Regions from separate parts of the Homo sapiens genome. Here all the other regions are linked to region 4. Evidence: fine-mapped expression QTL. A gene starts in region 4. Each other region holds a variant in brackets. All regions are shown on one strand. Distances are from middle to middle. Region 1 has its middle 15 kb from the start of MIR1972-2. Region 2 overlaps WWP2 (WW domain containing E3 ubiquitin protein ligase 2). Region 3 overlaps WWP2 (WW domain containing E3 ubiquitin protein ligase 2). Region 4 holds the start of WWP2 (WW domain containing E3 ubiquitin protein ligase 2).

Region 1 (5,149 bases), 280 kb after region 4:
TGGAAAAGACAAGAATATGCAACAAAAAAGTTCCACCCACTTCTTGTTTACTTGGTGCTCTATATGACCTGAATATATAATAAGTATTTATAGAGTCAAATCAATATATTAAGTAAATGAAACTCTTAATAGACAGAATTAAATAGTATAAGTCTTTCCTCTCAATTTCAAAATCCTTTAATTACAAGGCACCTTTTACCCAAGACAAACACCAATTTTCAAGTCAGCCGAAGCTGTGTGTGACACTGTGAAGCCAAGAGGCACCTTTAACAGAAAGAACCCAGAGCCACTGGCTTCACAGCAGGCTGAACTCGTTGAACAGGGTCACCTCTGTCCTACTCACCTCTGACTGTCCTCCAGCATCTTCACTGCCTCCTTCAAGTTTTTTCCCATTTCAGCTAACGTGGGGTCTGCTATCTGGGGAAAAAAAAAAAAAAGAAAGAAATTTTAATAATCCTCTATTACCTCTACAACACAATTCACCCAGAAAAATTAAGTGCATAATTTCTTCTGGATTTACTGTGAAGTACATGATTTTAAAACCTGCAATAGTACAAAAGTATAACAGAAAAAGTAAAAGTCTTCCAGCCCCACTTCCTAGAGGAAGCTGCTGTTTTTATTTTTATTTTTTGAGATGGAGTCTTACTCTGTTGCCCAGACTAGAGTGCAATGGCATGACCTTGTTCACTGCAACCTCTGCCTCCTGGGTTCAAGTGATTCTCTTGCCTCAGCCTCCCAAGTAGCTGGGATTACAGGCACACACCACCATGCCCAGCTAATTTTTATATTTTTAGTAGAGACGGGGGGTTTCACCATGTTGGCCATGCTAGTCTCGAACTCTTGACCTCAAGTGATCTGGCCACCTTAGCTTCCCAAAGTGCTGGGATTGCAGGTGTGAGCCACCGTGCCTGGCCTCCTTAAGTTCCTTTTGAATTTTAGTGCCATGTGTACACCTATCTCCCATCCAAAAAGTAAACAAAATAGAATTTAAATTTTTCTGCAGAATTATAATTTTTTCACCATTCATTCTGGGAAGAACCACGTGAGGCCAAAACCAAGGACCCTACCCTTCTTCACTTGGTACCACCTTCCCACTTGACAAGTTACAAGTCCCATGGGGGTAACCACAAGGTCCCCTCAGCCTGGCCATTGTACACAGCCCCAGGGTACCGGCAACGCATGACCTACACTCCAAGGCAACTGGACAACTTGGTCTTTGGTAAGATCACTTATGATAACAAAGTGAGTCAGCTTCGCTTCAGACAAGCAATGTGGCAGTGATACAAAGACATGCTATTTTGACAAATATTATTTTTGAGACAGTCGCTCTGTTACACAGACTGGGGTACAGTGGTTTGATCGTGGCTCACTGCAGCCTTGACCTCCAGGGATCAAGTGATCCTCCCACCTCAGCCTCCTGAGTACCTGGGAATACAAGTGCTCGCCACCATGCCTTGCTAATTTTCACAATTTTTTTGTAGATACAAGGGTCTCATTATGCCGCATAGGCTGGTCTCAAACTCCTGAGCTCAAGTTATCCTTCTGCTGGGATTACAGGCTGAGCCACTGTGCCCGAACTTTTTGCAGAATTAAAACATACACATTCATTTTCCTTTCTCTATTCTTAATCTCTGTAGTTATTTTTAGGGAGAAAATTCTTGTTGACTTCAATCTCTATGTAGTATGAGTTGTGTTATAACAATAAATTATATATATTACATATAATACATATAATATCATATATAAGTTATAGCTCTTTTGTTCCCCTCTTACTCTTCTAAGTGTGCTGCTTAAAGGAAGAGCTGTGTTTACCTTTTCCTATTGCTCACTGTATCTAGCAATATCTTACAGCATGGCATACAATACGTACATATTTAAAACTGCATTGCCTCCTCAAAATTGTTTTTAAGAAATTCCACTCCATTTATCAACATAAGATTCAGAAATTGTTACATTCTAGAAGGGACCTAAGGGATCTAGTCCAGGGATTTTCCAGCTGTGTTCTCCTGAGCCTTAAGGTCCCTGGGAGGACTCTGAGAAGGAAGGGTTAGGTAAGCAGTTGGGGCTTCTAACTCCCTAGCAGATCAGCTCTGTTTTGTATAACAGGGTTTTGAGTAAAGTTTTTATTTGTAAAAAGTTTCACTGAATGATAAAGGGGATATCACCACCGATCCCACAGAAATACAAACTACCGTCACAGAATACTATAAACACCTCTATGCAAATAAACTAGAAAATCTAGAAGAAATGGATAAATTCCTCGACACATACACCCTCCCAAGACTAAACCAGAAAGAAGTTGAATCTCTGAATAGACCAATAACAGGCTCTGAAATTGTGGCAATAATTAAGAGCTTACCAACCAAAAAAAATCCGGGACCAGATGGATTCACAGCCGAATTCTACCAGAGGTAAAAGGAGGAGCTGGTACCATTCCTTCTGAAACTATTCCAATCAATAGAAAAAGAGG[G/A]AATCCTCCCTAACTCATTTTATGAGGCCAGCATTATTCTGATACCAAAGCCCGGCAGAGACACAACAAAAAAAGAGAATTTTAGACCAATATCCGTGATGAACATCGATGCAAAAATCCTCAATAAAACACTGGCAAACCGAATCCAGCAGCACATGAAAAAGCTTATCCACCATGATCAAGTGGGCTTCATCCCTGGGATGCAAGGCTGGTTCAACATACGCAAATCAATAAATGTAATCCAGCATATAAACAGAACCAACAACAAAAACCATACGATTATCTCAATAGATGCAGAAAGCCCTTTGACAAAATTCAACAACCCTTCATGCTAAAAACTCTCAATAAATTGGGTATTGATGGACCGTATCTCAAAATAATAAGAGCTATTTATGACAAACCCACAGCCAATATCATACTGAATGGGCAAAAACTGGAAGCATTCCCTTTGAAAACTGGCACAAGACAGGAATGCCCTCTCTCACCACTCCTATTCAACACAGTGTTGGAAGTTCTGGCCAGGGCAATGAGGCAGGAGAAGGAAATAAAGGGTATTCAATTAGGAAAAGAGGAAGTCAAATTGTCCCTGTTTGCAGATGACATGATTGTATATCTAGAAAACCCCATCGTCTCAGCCCAAAATCTCCTTAAACTGATAGGCAACTTCAGCAAAGTCTCAGGATACAGAATCAATGTACAAAAATCACAAGCATTCTTATACACCAATAACAGACAAACAGAGAGCCAAATCATGAGTGAACTCCCATTCACAATTGCTTCAAAGAGAATAAAATACCTAGGAATCCAACTTACAAGGAAAACTACAAACCACTGCTCAATGAAATAAAAGAGGATACAAACAAATGGAAGAACTTTCCATGCTCATGGGTAGGAAGAATCAATATCGTGAAAACGGCCACACTGCCCAAGGTAATTTATAGATTCAATGCCATCCCCATCAAGCTACCAATGGCTTTCTTCACAGAATTGGAAAAAACTACTTTAAAGTTCATATGGAACCAAAAAAGAGCCCACATTGCCAAGTCACTCCTAAGCCAGAAAAACAAAGCTGGAGGCATCACGCTACCTGGCTTCAAACTATACTACAAGGCTACAGTAACCAAAACAGCATGGTACTGGTACCAATACAGAGATATAGACCAATGGAACAGAATAGAGCCCTCAGAAATAATGCTGCATATCTACAACTATCTGATCTTTGACAAACCTGACAAAAACAAGAAATGGGGAAAGGATTCCCTATTTAATAAATGGTGCTGGGAAAACTGGCTAGCCATATGTAGAAAGCTGAAACTGGATCCCTTCCTTACATCTTATACAAAAATTAATTCAAGATGGATTAAAGACTTAAACGTTAGACCTAAAACCATAAAAACCCTAGAAGAAAACCTAGGCAATACTATTCAGGACACAGGCATGGGCAAGGACTTCATGTCTAAAACACCAAAAGCAATGGCAACAAAAGCCAAAATTGACAAATGGGATCTCATTAAACTAAAGAGCTTCTGCACAGCAAAAGAAACCACCATCAGAGTGAACAGGCAACCTACAGAATGGGAGAAAATTTTTGCAGTCTACTCACCTGACAAAGGGCTAATAGACAGAATCTACAATGAACTCAAACAAATTTACAAGAAAAAAAACAACCCCATCAAAAAGTGGGCGAAGGATATGAACAGACACTTCTCAAAAGAAGACATTTATGCAGCCAAAAGACACATGAAAAAATGCTCATCATCACTGGCCATCAGAGAATGCAAATCAAAACCACAATGAGATACCATCTCACGCCAGTTAGAATGGCAATCATTAAAAAGTCAGGAAACAACAGGTGCTGGAGAGGATGTGGAGAAATAGGAACACTTTTACACTGTTGGGACGCTAAACTAGTTCAACCATTGTGGAAGTCAGTGTGGCGATTCCTCAGGGATCTAGAACTAGAAATACCATTTGATGCAGCCATCCCATTACTGGGTATATACCCAAAGGATTATAAATCATGCCGCTATAAAGACACATGCACACGTATGTTTATTGTGGCACTATTCACAATAGCAAAGACTTGGAACCAACCCAAATGTCCATCAATGATAGACTGGATTAAGAAAATGTGGCACATATACACCATGGAATACTATGCAGCCACAAAAAATGGTGAGTTCATGTCCTTTGTAGGGACATGGATGAAGCTTGAAGCCATCATTTTCAGCAAACTGTCTCAAGGACAAAACAACAAACACCACATGTTCTCACTCATAGGTGGGAATTGAACAATGAGACTACATGGACACAGGAAGGGGAACATCATACACTGTTGCTTGTTGTGGGGTGGGGGGAGGGAGGAGGGATAGCATTAGGAGATATACCTAACGTTAAATGAAGAGTTAATGGGTGTGGCACACCAACATGGCACATGTATACATATGTAACAAACCTGCACGTTGTGCACACGTACCCTAAAACTTAAAAAGTATAATTAAAAAAAATTTTTTTTTTAAATTAAAAAAAAAAAAGTGTCATTGAAAAGAAGAAAAAAATTCTTTGGGAGGCCAAGGCAGAAGAATCACTTGAGGCCAGGAGTTTCAGATCAGCTTGGGCAACATAGTGAGAAATAAATTAGCTGGGTGTGGTGGTGCACACCTGTAGTCCTAGCTACTT
Region 2 (5,149 bases), 63 kb after region 4:
GATCTGGGAATGCATCATGGGAGACTTTGCCTGGCCTGGGTGGGGTGTGTGTGTGTGTGTGTTTGTGTGTGTGTGTTCATGCATGTGTGTTTATCAAGGAAGGCTTCCTGGAGGAAGTGACACCTGGACACCAGAAAGAGAAAAAGGAATCGTCTAGAGGAACAAGAGAAAATCATTTTAGGTGGAGGGAACAGCATGTGGGAAGCTTTGAGGCAGGAACAAGCTGGTTGCTGTCAAGTCACACAGGAGGCCAACGGCAGGGAGGAGGCAGGTGCTAGATCAGTGCTGTCCAATAGAAACAGAATTTGAGGTGTGTGTATAATTTAGAATTTGCTACTAGCCATATTAAAAATAAGTCAAAACATAGGCCAGGCACCGTGGCTCACGCCTGCAATCCCAGCACTTTGGGAGGCTGAGGCCAGTGGATCATTTGAGGCCAGGAATTCAAGACCAGCCTGGCCAACATGACAAAGCTCCATCTTTACTAAAAGTACAAAAATTAGCCAGGCATGGTGGCACGTAATCTCAGCTACTTGGGAGGCTAAGGCAGGAGAATCACTTGAACCCAGGAGGCAGAGATTGCAGTGAGCCAAGATCGCGCCACTGCACTCCAGCCTGCGCAACAGAGCGAGACTGTGTCTCAAAAAAGAAAAAAGTAAAAACAAAAACACAGGTGAAATTAATTTTAATAATGTAGCTTATTTCCACATATCTGAAATGCTATTTTAACATGTAATCAGTATAAAGAAAAGTACTAATGAGATATTTTACATACTTTTTGGCCTCAGGTGTGTCTTTCTGACACACAGCACATCTTAATCCATACCAGCCACCTTCTAAGTATGGCTGCAGGTAGCTGTGGCCCCCATATTGGACAGTGCAGGTCTAGAGGTTGAGTCCCTGGAGAAAGACTGGGAAACTTCTCTTCTTTTATTTATTTATTTGTATTTACAAATTTTTTGATTTAAATTTTCTCTTTTTCTTGTGTTTTTTTTTTTTGAGGTGGAGCCTTGCTTTCTTGCCCAGGCTGGAGTGCAGTGGTGCGGTCTTGTTCACTGCAGCCTGTGCTCCTGGGTTCAAGCGATTCTCCTGCCTCAGCCTCCCAAGTAGCTGGGATTACAGGTGTGTACCACCACACCTAGCTAATTTTTATATTTTTAGTAGAAAAGGGGTTTTGCCATGTTGGCCCTGCTGGCCTCGAACTCCTGACCTCAAGTGATCTGCCTGCCCCAGCCTCCCAAAGTGCTGGGATTACAGGCTTGAGCCACCGTGCCCAGCCAAAAATTTTTGTTAAAACATCACCTTGTCTTCAGAAGAAACTTTTCTGCGAAATCAGGTTACCATTAGTGTAGGGTTATATTTGTACAGTTCTAGAAACTTCTTCCATTCCTCTTGAGCCTGTGGCACAGGGGCGTTGGGCCATCTTCTCCAAGGGCCTGTGCTGTTTCTCATCAGCCGTGTAGCATTCAGGCCCTAAATGAACACCTGCTGCAGGCCGGGAATGGTGGCCTTGACCTGGTGACAGGAAAATGAGATTGTTGCCTGAATGTGAGCTGTTTCCTTCCCCTTGCCAAAAACAAAACTGAAACACTTCATCTGGTGTTTGGGCCTCTGCTCCGCACCAGTCATTCGGGCGGCTTCCGCCTGACCGTCCATTCCAGCCTCCCAGGTTCTCCCAGGGGAGGTGCTGTGGCTGCCGGAATAGCCATGTTAACATCAGACCTCATTTATCTCATTGCAGTGTTTAATTTTCCCTCTTCCTTCAGACTACCAGGATTCTTGGAGTATTTTTCTTAGTGTAGGAGGCTTATTCTTTGTGGGAGAGTGGTCCGTCAAAAGGGAAGGTAATCCTGGACCAGAGTAAGAGTGTCACAGTCACATAAGTGGGCAGTTAGTGCCACTATTAGGTACAGAGTGGGACTCTGACTTCAGTGCCTGGCCTGGCCTGGGAGTGCTGTTTATTACATCCAGGACAGTAAGGCACACACTTCTCAGAAAATAATATCCCTCCCTCCCTCCCTTCCCCCCTCCCCCTCCCTCCCCCTTCCCTTTGTTCCTTCCTTTTTTCCTTCCTCTTGCCCTTTTCCTCTCTCCCTCAATTAATTAATGTTTATAACACATGTATTGCATGAATTCATTCTCTTGGAGGGAGGAATCCCCAAACCCTCTTGAGTGGATAGAGTGCATCTGTATATATTTGAAAAGATTCATAGATTACAAGTGAAAAATCAAAGGGCAGAGCTTTGGGCCTAGAATGACCTCAACTTTGCACCTGTGGCTTTTTTTTTTTTTTTTTTTTTGAGACAGAGTTTTACTCTGTCACCCAGACTGCAGTACAGTGGTGT[G/A]ATCTTGGCTCACTGCAGCCTCCACCTCCCGGGTTCAAGTGATTCTCCTGCCTCAGCCTCCCAAGGAGCTGGGATTACAGGCATGCACAACCATGCCTGACTAATTTTTGTATTTTTGGTAGAGATGGGGTTTCACTTTGTTGGCCAGGCTGGTCTCGAACTCCTGAGCTCAGGTGATCCACCCACCTCAGGCTCTGGGATTACAGGCATGAGCCACTGTGCTCGGCCTTGCATCTGTAGCTTTTATGTGTATATTTGTGCTTGTGTTTGCAATGACTTCATACAAAGTTTTTCAAAGTGGGCGATACTGGCTGGGTGCAGTGGCTCACACCTGTAATCCCAGCACTTTGGGAGGCTGAGGTGGGCGGATCACTTGAGGCTAGGAGTTCGAGACCAGCCTGACCAACATGGTGAAACCCCGTCTCTACTAAAAATACAAAATTAGCTGGGCATGGTGGCAGGCACCTGTAGTCCCAGCTACTCAGGAGGCTGAGGCAGGAGAATCCCTTGAACCCAGGAGGCAGAGGTTGCAGTGAGTTGAGATGGTGCCACTGCACTCCAGCCTGGGCAACAGAGCGAGATTCCATCTCCAAAAAAAAAAAACCCCAAAAACCAAAAAACTAAAGTGGCGATACCATGGGAAAGGCTTTGGAATGTGTGCATTTGTGGAGTAGGTGTCATAGTTTACCTTTCTGTATTTGAATTTTTTTGATGAGCACATTATTTTTTATTTTGAAAGCTAATATTATTTATTGTAAAGACGATATGATATAGCAGAAGTGGGTTTTTTTTTTTTGGTTTTTTTTTTTGGATACAGGGTTTTGTTCTGTTGCCCAGGCTGAGGTGTAGTGGTGCGATCACAGCTCACTGCAGCCTTGACCTCCTGGGCTCAAGTGATCCTCCCACCTCAGCCTCCCAAGTAGATGGGACCACAGGTGCATGCCACTACACCTGTCTAAGTTTTTACATTTTTTGTAGACACAGGATCTCCCTATGTTGCCCAGGCTGGTCTCAAACTGGGCTCAAGGGATTTTCTCACCTTGGCCTCTCCAAGTGTTGGGATTACAGACGTGAGCCACCACACCCTGCCTGGAAAATACTTTTTAAACTTTTTACTATGGAAAATTTCAAACATAAATAAAAGTAGAAGCAGCCAGGCGCGGTGGCTCATGCCTGTAATCCCAGCACTTTGGGAGGCTGAGGTGGGCAGATCACCTGAGGTCAGGAGTTTGAGACCAGCCTGGCCAACATCATGAAACCCCATCTGCACTAAAAATACAAAAATTAGCCGGGTGTGGTGGTGGGTGCCTATAATCCTAGCTACTCAGGAGGCTGAGTCAGGAGAATCGCTTGGACTGAGGAGGCAGAGCTTGCAGTGAACTGAGATCACACCACTGCACTCCAGCCTGGGTGACAAGAGTGAAACTCCGTCTCAAAAAAAAAAAAAAAGTAGACCAGGCGCAGTGGCTTATGCCTGTAATCCCAGCACTTTGGGAGGCCGAGGCAGGCAGATCACAAGGCCAGGAGTACGAGACCAGCTTGGCCAACATAGTGAAACTCTGTCTCTACTAAAAATACACACAAAAAAATTAGCCGGGCGTGATGGTGGGTGCTTGTAGTCCCAGCTACTTGGGAGGCTGAGACAGGAGAATTGGCTGAACCCAGGAGGCAGAGGTTGCAGTAAGCCGAAATAGTGCCATTGCACTCCAGGCTGGGCAACAGAGTGAGACTCCGTCTCAAAAAAAAAAAAAAAAAAAAAAGTGGAGCCGGGCACGGTGGCTAAGGCCTGTAATCCCAGCACTTTGGGAGGCCGAGGCGGGTGGATCACGAGGTCAGGAGATCGAGACCATCCTGGCTAACATGGTGAAACCCTCTCTCTAATAAAAATACAAAAAAAAAAAAAAAAATTAGCCTAACACGGTGAAACCCCGTCTCTAATAAAAATACAAAAAAAAATTAGCCGGACATGGTGGCAGGTGCCTGTAGTCCCAGCTCCTCAGGAGGCTGAGGCAGGAGAATGGTGTGAACCCGGTAGGCGGAGCTTGCAGTAAGCCGAGATCGTGCCACTGCACTCCAGCCTGGGTGACAGAGCGAGACTCCACCTCAAAAAAAAAAAAAAAAGGGGGGGGGGCGGAGAGAATAATGGACCATCTAGCACCAGTTACCCAGCTTAAATGATAACCAGCACACATCTACTTGTCCTTCATCTTTAGCTCCCATCTTTTGGGGAAGTATTTGCAAGAAAATCTCATGCCTTGTGTCATTTCACTTGTTGACACTCCTGCATACATGTCTAATGTTTAACTGAAATGGAAATTATGAAAAAAAAAAAACTACTGTGGAATTAATGGAAATTGAACAAAGAAAATCTTTGTTTCATAATCTTACTGCTCAAACACAACTTATCATTTTTCCCTGGTTCATTTATTTCTTTGCCCCTTTGTATACTTATTTTTACATGATTTTAGTAATAGGGTGCATTCTATAATGTCAGAGGTTGCAGTGAGCCAAGATCGCGCCACTGCACTCCAGCCTGGGCGACAGAGACTCCATCTCAAAAAAAATAAAAACTTAACTTTGTGGTATGAATAATTTTCCATGTTGTTGTATACGCTTTATAATCACTAATCCAAATCTTAATTGGGGCATAATAGGTCCCTCATCTGAAATTATAATTTGTAAAAAAACTCCAATGTATACAAGGGAATTTTTTTAAAAGCAGAATTGTAACCTTAAAAAATAATTTTCTAAGAGGACTCCTACATTTTGCTCTGCAAAGAACATTTAAAAGGAGGTTTGTTCTT
Region 3 (5,149 bases), 170 kb after region 4:
GTTGCTGTGTATTTACGTTATGTTGCCCGCCCAGGTAGAGTGGAAACAGGGTAGTTACTATTCAAACAGAACCTTTGCAGAAAAATTATTGTAATAAACATGCATCGTGCCCTTGTGCAGTGCACAGCCTAGGCAACTGAGCATGGTGACCCAGGGTACAAGGACCCCCTTTACCATTAGAAGCTCTGGATATTGTGATGTAAAGTCTTGGAACACATCACCTGGGAGCCGACAATCACACGTTTTCCCAAATATCATCCTCAAATGCAGTTGCCGCCCTGGTTCACTGTAGGTCTGAGCCTGCCCTGTTCACTGACCAGCTGTTCATATAGGTTAGCCCGGGTGCTTGTCACAGGGCTCGACTCCCTGGGACACGTGTCCCCATACTAACCTGAGACACGATGGTGAAGAGACACAGCTCCTGTGCAGATGTGCACGAAGGGACCCATTATTCTTGTCTTTTCTGTCTCTTCCCTCACAGAGAGTGGTTTTTCCTCCTGTCTCATGAGGTGCTCAACCCTATGTATTGTTTATTTGAATATGCCGGAAAGAACAATTACTGCCTGCAGATCAACCCCGCCTCCTCCATCAACCCGGACCACCTCACCTACTTTCGCTTTATAGGCAGATTCATCGCCATGGTAAGGGGGCCCCAGGGGTCTGCCTAGTTCCCTCCTCCTCTCCCTCCTCTTCCCTCTCCTGGTGAAGTGTGCCAGGGGCACCAGGGGAATCTGCTCTTTCTCTGAGACCTCCAGGAAGGGGCAGCATTGGAGGAGGCCCTGGGCCTGTTCACCAGGAGGCAGCGTGGCGTGAACGGCAGCCCCCGTGGACTGGCTCACCCTCTCGGGGCTCCACCCTTTGCCCCCATAGAGCTCGTAACCTAAAAATGCAAGAAGCTAGAGAGAGTTCTGGAGAAACCAGAGCTTTCTCAGTGGCTGCCCTGTAGGTAGTGAAGAGTTTCCATGTTGCTTTGTACAGGACTTGTCAAGAGGGAGCCCAGGGTCGCTGGGCCACAGACTTTACTGAACATTAAATATGTGCTCTGTTGAGGGCCTTGGGATGACAGGGCCAGGTGAAACCATAGCTGCCCACCTGCTGCCTGTCTCTGGGAGGTGACACTGTCACGGCATTTGGGAATGTCCCACTGAGACACTAAGCCTTCTGGAAGGGCATTTGGAATCAACACTAGTGTAGAACAAAACGTAAAGTCTGTGGCCCAGAGACCCTGGGCCCCCTCTTGACAAGTCCTATGCAAAGCAACATGGAAACTCTTCAGTACCTACAGGGCAGCCACTGAGAAAGCTCTGGTTTCTCCAGAACTATCTCCAGCTTTTTACATTTTTAGGTTACCAGCTCTATGGGGGCGAAGGGTAGAGCCCAGAGAGGGCGCGCCAGTCCATGGGCGCTGCCGTTCACGCCACGCTGCCTCCTGGTGAACAGTAGACTGGCTGGTGCAGGGTGTAGGGACATCTGTCAGAAAGTGAGCCAGTTCTGGGGAGGGGCGTCCCAGCGTCTGTATTTAACTGGAAAGAGGGACACAATGTGAATATGGAAAGGGAGGTCCTGCCACGTGCCCCGTTGAGGGTCCTGGGAGCGTGGAGAACCCGGATTGAGAAGCGGAGCCCGTGGGAGGCACAGCGCGGGAGCCACATGCATAGCTGGAGATGTTTCAATTCTCCTTTCCTTCGCTTCTTCCCCTGCCTTCCTGAGTGTCCCACCCGGCTCCCCTCTTAGGAGGACCCAAGCGCCCCATGAGCCTGTGACTAAATATGGCCGGCCCTTCCCATCGTCGAGGAGTTCTTGGCCAAGGTGCTGGGCTCTGGAAATGGGCACATTCTTCCCAGGTCTAGAGACCCGCCTGGCCCAGCAGCCAGCAGGACAGACCGGTAAAACCCTAGACTATTACT[C/G]ACCATTGGCCGCCAGCTCTCGCTGTCGGCGGTGTCTGCATTATTTTTGGCTGCCTTTGCCACCCACCCTGAGCGCCAGTGAATCAGGGCTGCCACCTGCAGCTGTTCAGAGCAAGCCTTTTCTGTGAGCGTGGGGCAGACCTTTGCTAGGCCAGGAGCCAGCCGGCCAGCGTGCGGGGCAGATGCGGGCCCGGACGTGGGTTCCCGCACCAGCTGGCTCTGCCCAGTCCTTGCGGTCTGCAGGGCAGGGTGGGAGTCCCTCTGTAGGTACAAGTCAGGATAAAGGCGTTGTTTACTCCTGAGGCCCTCCCGCTGCGTCCGAGGCAGCTGCTGCTGTAGTTCTGTCAGGGAAGGAAGGCGGGTAGCGGTAGCAGAGTTTGATACCGAGCATCTGAGAGCTGGTCTTGGCAGTGCCCAGGGAAGGCCAAACCTCTGTGCTGTGCCTCTTCCTTCCCAGGCGCTGTACCATGGAAAGTTCATCGACACGGGCTTCACCCTCCCTTTCTACAAGCGGATGCTCAATAAGAGACCAACCCTGAAAGACCTGGAGTCCATTGACCCTGAGTTCTACAACTCCATTGTCTGGATCAAGTGAGTTCCCTGCCCCCTTGCCCCACCGCGCTGATAGGAGGGACGTCTCTGGGTGGGAAGCAGGTACTGATGGCCTTTATTTTGTCTGCCAGTGTGGCCCCTGAGCTCTTTTCCAGCCTCTATAAGAGCTTGTGGAGAGGAATGTCCTCTGGGTTCCCTGGGGACAGTTCTAGAACCTTCTCCTTGAGTCAAGGAGCTGTCCCCTGTCACTGTTCAGGATTCTAGGCCACCTGTGGGCCCTTGGTGTCCCACGGGCAACAGAGCAGGATCCAGGAAAGACCCTGACACGGTAGACATCTCCCCACTTGGTCTCCTGTGCCCCCAGAGAGAACAACCTGGAAGAATGTGGCCTGGAGCTGTACTTCATCCAGGACATGGAGATACTGGGCAAGGTGACGACCCACGAGCTGAAGGAGGGCGGCGAGAGCATCCGGGTCACAGAGGAGAACAAGGAAGAGTACATCATGTGAGTCTCAGGCGCCGGGGGCTCCGCTCCAGGGGTGGCGTGGAGATCTAGTGGGTTGCAGAGAAAGATGGGCCCCCACCTGTGGCCCATCGGTCACTGTGGATGCCATTTGCATTTGCCTTGATGGTGGCTGCTGGTGGGCGGTCATGTGATGGCGCGAGCTGGGGGAACCAAAGCCGAGGTCCTTAGTTACCGACTCCCAGCTGTGCTTTTTCGCCATGTGGGAGACTTCAAGCCTGCAGCGTGGAATTTCTTTGAAGTGGCATCAAGCTGAGACATCTGCATCTTTCTCCGGGCCGAAAGGATCTCTGTGGCCTGTGTGCCTAGACCCACCGTCTCACGTGTGCCCGTTCTCCGTGCCTGTTCCTCAGGCCTCTTGCTTTAGTCTTTATCTCCACGCTTCCATACGTCTGAGGTTCAGTCGGCGCTGGGGGCAGGAGCAGGAGGAGGTGGTGGTGAGGATGATTTCAAAGACTCCGGTGTCTGCAGGTCACTGTGAGGTTTTCAGGGCCTCACTCTAGGTCCTCCAGCAGGCTGGGTCTGGGTGTGCGAAGTGGGCTCTGCTGATCTGGTGGTCCTGCGCGGTAACGGCCACGCGGCCTGGCCGGGAGCCACCCCTGAGCAGTGGGTCTCAGACTCCACCCATGGCTGCTCTTTGGTCTCAGGCTGCTGACTGACTGGCGTTTCACCCGAGGCGTGGAAGAGCAGACCAAAGCCTTCCTGGATGGCTTCAACGAGGTGGCCCCGCTGGAGTGGCTGCGCTACTTTGACGAGAAAGAGCTGGAGGTGAGTGTCTGAGGTTGCTGGGACCCTGAGCCCCTGCCTCTGGGGCGATCCTGCTCTGTGATACGCTCACTGTGTACCCACAGACACTCAGCGTAAAACTCCCACTTCGGCAGGGCAGATGGGTTTGATTTGGGACCCACCCTTCCCCAGACACTTGTTTCAAGAAAGCAGGGACTTACATTACCCATATTATTAACGCTGACACCAAAAATAGCTAGTTGAATATGTTTGGGGTAATGTCAAGTGCTAGCGAGTGGACGATGCGCGGGGAGGGACCTGCCGGGGATGCTGACTGCCGCCTCTCCCCAGCTGATGCTGTGCGGCATGCAGGAGATAGACATGAGCGACTGGCAGAAGAGCACCATCTACCGGCACTACACCAAGAACAGCAAGCAGATCCAGTGGTTCTGGCAGGTGGGTCCCGGGCCCAGGCCTTGGCAGGGACATTTGGGCCATCAACCAAAGGAAACGGGTCCTGAGGAGGCCTCACGCGCAAGGACCTTCAGCTTTGGCCCTGTCCTTGCCTCCCACACCTTGCAAAAGGAGACGATAGACCAGCCTTGGGATGAACGGGGACAGTTCCAGCTGAGTGGTGGCCAGTGGATGTGACAGGAGGTCGTCAGTGGTCAGCCTTGGGCCAGCTGGTGTGCAGGGACAGACCTGCAGGCAGACAGCAGCTGCCACTGGTTGAGAGGTCCCCTGCCAGCCAGATGGGACAGGAAGGCAGGGGCTTGGCTCCAGAAACCAGAAAGAGCTGTCATCCTATGTATAATTAATGTGTTGATTCTTTTATACGTATGGGTTTTGTTGTTGTCGTTATGAAATACAGCATACAAAAAAAAATAGCGATTACAGGTATTCTTAGTACATGTCTGTGTGCATATGTACGTATACAAATTTTTTGTGGAGGTGAAATTTGTATAACATACAATTAACTATTAATTTTTTTTTTTTCAATAGAGACAGGGTCTTGCTATGGTGCCCAGCCTGGTCCTGAACTCCTGGGCTCAAGCAGTCCTTCCATCTCACCCTCCCAAAGTGCTGGGATTACAGGCGTGAGCCACTGTGCCCAACCCATTTAAGTTTTTTAAGATACACAATTCAGTGGCTTTCCACTTTGGGTTCCTTGGCTTCCCACCCAGGCCGAGGTGGGCAGATCACTTGAGGTCAGGAGTTCAAGACCAGCCTGGCCAAAATAGTGAAACCCTCTTTCTACTAACAATATAAAAAATTAGCCAGGCATGGTGGTGGACACCTGTAATCCCAGCTACTCGGGAAGCTGATGCATGAGAATCACTTGAACCTGGGAGGTGGAGACTGCAGTGAGCTGGACCGTGCCACTGCTCTGCAGTGAGCTGGACCGTGCCACTGCACTCCAGCCTGGGCGACAGAGCAGTGG
Region 4 (5,149 bases):
GCTGGGACTACGGGTGTGTGCCACCATGCCCAGCTAATATTTGTATTTTTTGTAGAGATGGGTTTTCACCATGTTGCCCAGTCTGATCTCGAGCCCCTGACAGTCTGATCTGCCCGCCTTGGCCTCCCAAAGTACTGGGATTACAGGTGCCAGCCACCGCACCCTGTCAGATTTTATTCTTTTAATGTGCAGTGTGTGCTCTTTGCTTGTCCCTTCTCCCCTTTGGTGAACACTTACTCAGATGCCACTAAATCTTTTCTGCAGGGTTGTTAAAAAAAAGCAACAAAAGATAAAAAATGAAATATGAAAGAAGAAAACAAACCGAAACCAACAAATGCTAGTAAGTCAAGGAAATAGTCTCTAATTTATCTAGAACAGAATTAGTAAAACTGCCATCAATGGAACTGGAGAAGTTTTAGTTATAGTAGTTTTATAAATGAGACTAATATAGGGTTTAATGTACAAAGACAGGACTGTATCTCCTTGAAAGTTAATCTCTTGGATTTGGAGTGGTACTACAAAAAGTAGAGACTAAGTGTTCAACCTATTTATTTATTTAGATACAGAGTCTCACTCTGTCGCCCAGGCTGGAGTGCAGAGGCGTTATCATGGCTCACTGCCACCTCCGCCTCCCGGGTTCAAGCAATTCTCCTGCCTCAGGTTCTGGAGTACCTGGGATTACCCGCACCCGGACCATGCCCGGCGAATCTTTTTTTTTTTTTTTTTTGTAGTTTTAGTAGAGATGGGGTTTCACCAGGTTGGCCAAGTGGGTTTCGAACTCCCGACCTCAGGTAATCCACCTGCCTCTGCCTCCCAAAGTGCTGGGATTACAGGCGTGAGCCTCCACGCCCCACCAGCCAATTTAATTTGTATGCATGATAGAATCCATCCCAATTCGAAGACCCAAAAATAACAGATTAGTACAAGTCTTTGAGGCTAATTACGTCATTAGTATTAATTTTAATCAATGGTGATTAAACTGAGCCTTCATTCAACTTGTCCAGAACATCAGTCAAGAATGTCTATTTAAAATGTTCTTGGAGGCCGGGCGCATTGGCTCACGCCTATAATCTGAGCACTTTGGGAGGCCAAGGCAGGTGGATCATCTGAGGTTAGGAGTTTGAGACCAGCCTGGCCAACATGGTGAAACCCCATCTCTATTAAAAATACAAAAATTAGCCAGGCATGGTGGTGGGTGCCTGTAGTCCCAGCTACTCAGGAGGCTGAGGAAGGAGAATTGCTTGAACCTGGGAGGCAGAGGTTGCAGTGAGCCAAGATTGAGCCACTGCACTCCTGCCTGGGCTACAAGAGTGAAACTCTGTCTCAAGCAAGCAAATAAATAAATAAATAAATAAATAAATAAAGTTATTGGGCAGGCACAGTGGCATTCGCCTGTAGTCTCAGCTACTTGGGAGGCTGAAGCAAGAGGACTGCTTGAAGCTGGGAGTTCGAGCCCAGCCAAAGCAACCTATCCAGACCCATCTCTTAAAAAAAATATTTCTCTGCCAGGTGCGGTGGTTCATGCCTGTAATCCCAGCACTTTGGGAGGCCAAGGTGGGCGGATCATTTGAAGTCAGGTGTTCGAGACCAGACTGGTCAACATGGAGGAACCCTGTCTCTACTAAAAATGCAAAAATTAGCCAGGCGTGGTGGTGCACGCCTGTAATCCCAGCTACTCGGGAGGCTGAGGCAGGAGAATTGCATGAACCGGCGAGACGGAGGTTGCAGTCAGCTGAGACTGCACCACTGCACTCCAGCCTGGGCGACAGAGCGAGGCTCCATCTCAAAAAAAAAAAAAAAAATATCATCTATCTATCCACCTACCTACCTACCTACCTACCTGGATTATAATTCATTAAGTTCTCTGTGCCCTGTAGTTGTAGATTAAGGGAATGCGATTGGATTAGTGTGGAGGGGCTTTTTATGGAGCCAAGCAGGAGTTTTTAAGCTTTTGTACTTTTGCTTCATGTCACAAGGACAGATGCCCCACAAAGGCTGAGATGTTTGTGGTCCTGGATCTTAGAACAGTGCCTGGCACATAATAGGCATAAGGTTGCCAGGAAATAGAAATACAGATACTCAATTCAATTTGATCTTCAGATAATCAAAAAATACTTTTTTTAGTATAAATATGTCCCATTCTGTATTTGGGACATACATATTACACTGTTGTTTATCTGAAATTCAAATTTAAGTGGGTGTCCTGTACTTTATCTGGCAACCCTACTAAAGGAGCTCAATTAAGTATTTGCTGACTTAACAGTCTGAAGGTCTCGTTTCACCTGTAAAATGGGGCTAGTACCTGTCCCTGCCTCTATAAGGTTGATGGGCAGAGTAGGTGGCATTCAGTGAGCCCTCAATTTATTTGATTGCCTGGGACCATCCGGTGAGCAGAAACCCTTCCACTTTCAACTACAGAGACGATAAAAAGGCCTCCTCGAGGCCAGAGGTGCCCAGGCCAGGCCTAGGTGGCCCGCACCTGCGAGCCTGGCCAGCCTCTTCCGGGTCAGGTGACCGCGCGCGGTCACGTGACCCGGCCCGAGTGCGGGCGGTGGAAGGCGGAAGTAGGAGAGGAGTTCGGCGCCGCTTCTGTGGCCACGGCAGGTAGCGAGCGCTGGCGCGGGGGGCGCGGTGGGCTGGCTGCCTGCACGGGGCGGGCCGGGGGCGGCGGGCGGCGCGGGGTGGGCCGGGGGCGGCGCGGCCCGGGCGTCGGGGGGCGGCGGCTTCCTGTGGGAGGGGCCTGGCGCGGCGGTTCCGGCCTCCGAGGAGGGGTGTCCCGGCTCCCGCCCGAGTGGGGTGGGCGCGCCGCGGCCCGCGCGGGGGTTGCTCCGAAATGGGTGCCCCGGCCGCCAAGGGTGCAGCTGGAGCGAGTCCTCCCGGAAGGGGAGAGGAGCTTAGGTTCCCAGGCATGGAGAGGAGCGATCTTTGTGGAGGGATCGGGACCAGGGGAAGGGGCGACTTGGAACTGAGCTGGAAGGGGGTGCCTGAAAATGGGTTTATGGCGTGGAGCCAGAGGGAAAAAGATGCTGCCTGGACCCCCTCTGAGAGTCTCTCCCTTCCTTCCTGTTTGGAAATGATTGTTACCCGAGACTTTGATGACGGTCCCATTCAGTTTTTAAACTTCAGGAGGGATCACAGAATCTTGATCGTCTTGCTTCCCTCGCGCCCACTTAGTCCTGCGTGGGTAGGGTTTCCACTTCTTGGGAGCCTAGCCCTTCAGCTCATTTTTCTTTGAGATTTTCCCTGAACGGGCCATCATCGAGGCTTTAAAAAACAAAAAAAGAAAATAAATTAAAAAAATAAGTGTGGGCACTTTGCCTGTAAAATGGCTTTTAGCTTACACTGTTGACCTAGCCCAGCGTTACCTCAGCAACATAGTGACTGCTGAAATCTTGGACAGAGAAGTGTCTACCTAGACTGCTTTATGACTTTTCTCTTTCTTCCGTTTAAATTATTCAGTTTCCCTTAGCTTATCTTGTGACTGCTTATCTTGACGAACTGTAACTAGGTAGGGTGCCTGAGAGGTCTGTGTTATGTTCCTTAGAACTGTGACCTGGATCATGATTTTGAGATTGAATACTTGTGTTAAAGCCTGTTCATCTTCCTGTTTCTCATGTTTACTAAAATTTGCAGAAGCAAAAGGAGTTTCATGAGTGCAGTGTAACTGGAACGAATGTTCAAACTGGACATTCACAGCAGCCAGCATCGTTTTGGGTTACAAGTAGGAAAAAGTACTTTCCTAATGTATTATGAGTTCAAGTTTTTGGAGTTATTTGACAAACATTTAAAAATTAGTTTTTGCAGCAGCGCCTATGAGTGAGGTTGGGAAGATGTATTCTCATTTCACAGGGAACAAACAGACTTACGAGAGACGACTTGATTTTTTAAAACAATTTATTGCTCTTTCTTGTTTGCTGGCCTCTTCCTGCTAGATTGCAAATCCTTCAAGGGCAGGTTTCATATTTTATTTGGCTGCTAGCCTAGTGCCTGGCATGTTGTGAGCACTTGATAAATATTTGGTGAATAAATGCATTTCTAAAAGTCACACCGGCGTAAGTGGTGACAAAGGATTTGAACCCAAGTCTTCTACTCTTTTTCTTGTCAGAGAAGCTTGTGATTATCTGTGTCATTGGTCCATATGAAAACAGGCTCGAGAGAAAGGCTTGGATTGGCTTCTCAGTCTCTTTCACTTCATGATTACTTTCCCATTTACAAAGAGCGTATACCAACATCTCACTTAACCTTCCCTTTGAAATTGGGATGGTCAGTATTGTCCCTATATCACATGAAGAGACTGAGGCTTAATGAAGTCCTTACTTTAGATTTCAGAGCTAGTAAATGAGTAGGGACTCAAGCCCAGACCCTTAATCCTTAGATCCATTCTTTTTCATTTATTGACACAATAGAAAATTTTATTTTTATTTTATTTTGAGACAGGATCTTACTCTGTTGCCCAGGCTGGAGTGCAGTGGCACAATCACGGCTCACTGTAACCTTGACCTGCCTGGGCTCGGGTGATCCTCCCATGTCTGCCTCCCAAACAGCTGGGACTACAGGTGGGTGCCACCTCGCCTGGCTAATTTTTGTAGAGACAGGGGTTTTGCTATGTTGCCCGGGCTGTTTTCAAACTCCGGGGCTCAAGCGATCCTCCCACCTCGGCCTCTCAAAGTGTTGCAATTACAGGTGTAAGTCACCATGCCCAACTGAAAGTTTTATTTTTACATAATTTTTCAGGAATAAAAAGTGTAACATTTTAAGGAAAAAGATCACACAGAAAAAGTTGTGAATGTAGAATGTGAGTAAATGAAGTTTAGAAAACGCTGTACTCTACCATAGCTTCCTCTTCCTGGGAAAACATTCTTTCATTCAGTGAATATTTATAAGTACCCACTCTGTCTTTGCCAGGCATTGTTGTAGAGTCCAGTATGGTGTACACTAGCCACATGGGGCTGCTGAGCACTGGAGCTATGCTGTGAGCATAAAATACATTCTGGATTTTGAAGACTTAGCATGAAGAAAAGTAAAATGTCTCATTGATACTTTTTATGTTATAGTAAACGATCATATAATGTATAAACATGTATGATAACATTTTGGATTTATTGGGTTAAATACAACGTAATTATAAATAGTTGGTCAGACATGGTGG

The links. PIP is the estimated chance that this variant, and not a neighbour inherited with it, causes the effect.
Region 1: its variant is the best candidate, but not a certain one, in a credible set for the expression of WWP2 in whole blood (Lepik 2017, PIP 0.89).
Region 2: its variant is the best candidate, but not a certain one, in a credible set for the expression of WWP2 in whole blood (TOPMed, PIP 0.53).
Region 3: its variant is the best candidate, but not a certain one, in a credible set for the expression of WWP2 in aorta (GTEx, PIP 0.84).

What each region holds. Positions count from the first base shown.
Region 1 is chr16:70,042,587-70,047,735 of GRCh38, forward strand. It overlaps the pseudogene PDXDC2P-NPIPB14P and the pseudogene PDXDC2P. Among named protein-coding and RNA genes, the nearest start is that of MIR1972-2, 15 kb to the left of the region's middle. The variant G/A (reference allele first, on the strand shown) is at 2,471.
Region 2 is chr16:69,822,489-69,827,637 of GRCh38, forward strand. The region is part of intron 4 of WWP2 (WW domain containing E3 ubiquitin protein ligase 2); the gene reads left to right. Among named protein-coding and RNA genes, the nearest start is that of WWP2, 63 kb to the left of the region's middle. RefSeq lists enhancers at 1,703-1,802, 1,813-1,882. The variant G/A (reference allele first, on the strand shown) is at 2,346.
Region 3 is chr16:69,933,489-69,938,637 of GRCh38, forward strand. WWP2 (WW domain containing E3 ubiquitin protein ligase 2) reads left to right here. Exons shown (of 24, transcript NM_001270454.2): 17 at 482-641; 18 at 2,365-2,498; 19 at 2,824-2,964; 20 at 3,630-3,750; 21 at 4,060-4,164. Among named protein-coding and RNA genes, the nearest start is that of MIR140, 3.0 kb to the left of the region's middle. RefSeq lists a silencer at 174-364. The variant C/G (reference allele first, on the strand shown) is at 1,908.
Region 4 is chr16:69,759,788-69,764,936 of GRCh38, forward strand. WWP2 (WW domain containing E3 ubiquitin protein ligase 2) reads left to right here and starts at 2,545. Exons shown (of 24, transcript NM_001270454.2): 1 at 2,545-2,604. RefSeq lists an enhancer at 2,350-2,928 and silencers at 2,632-2,771, 2,792-2,951, 2,972-3,021.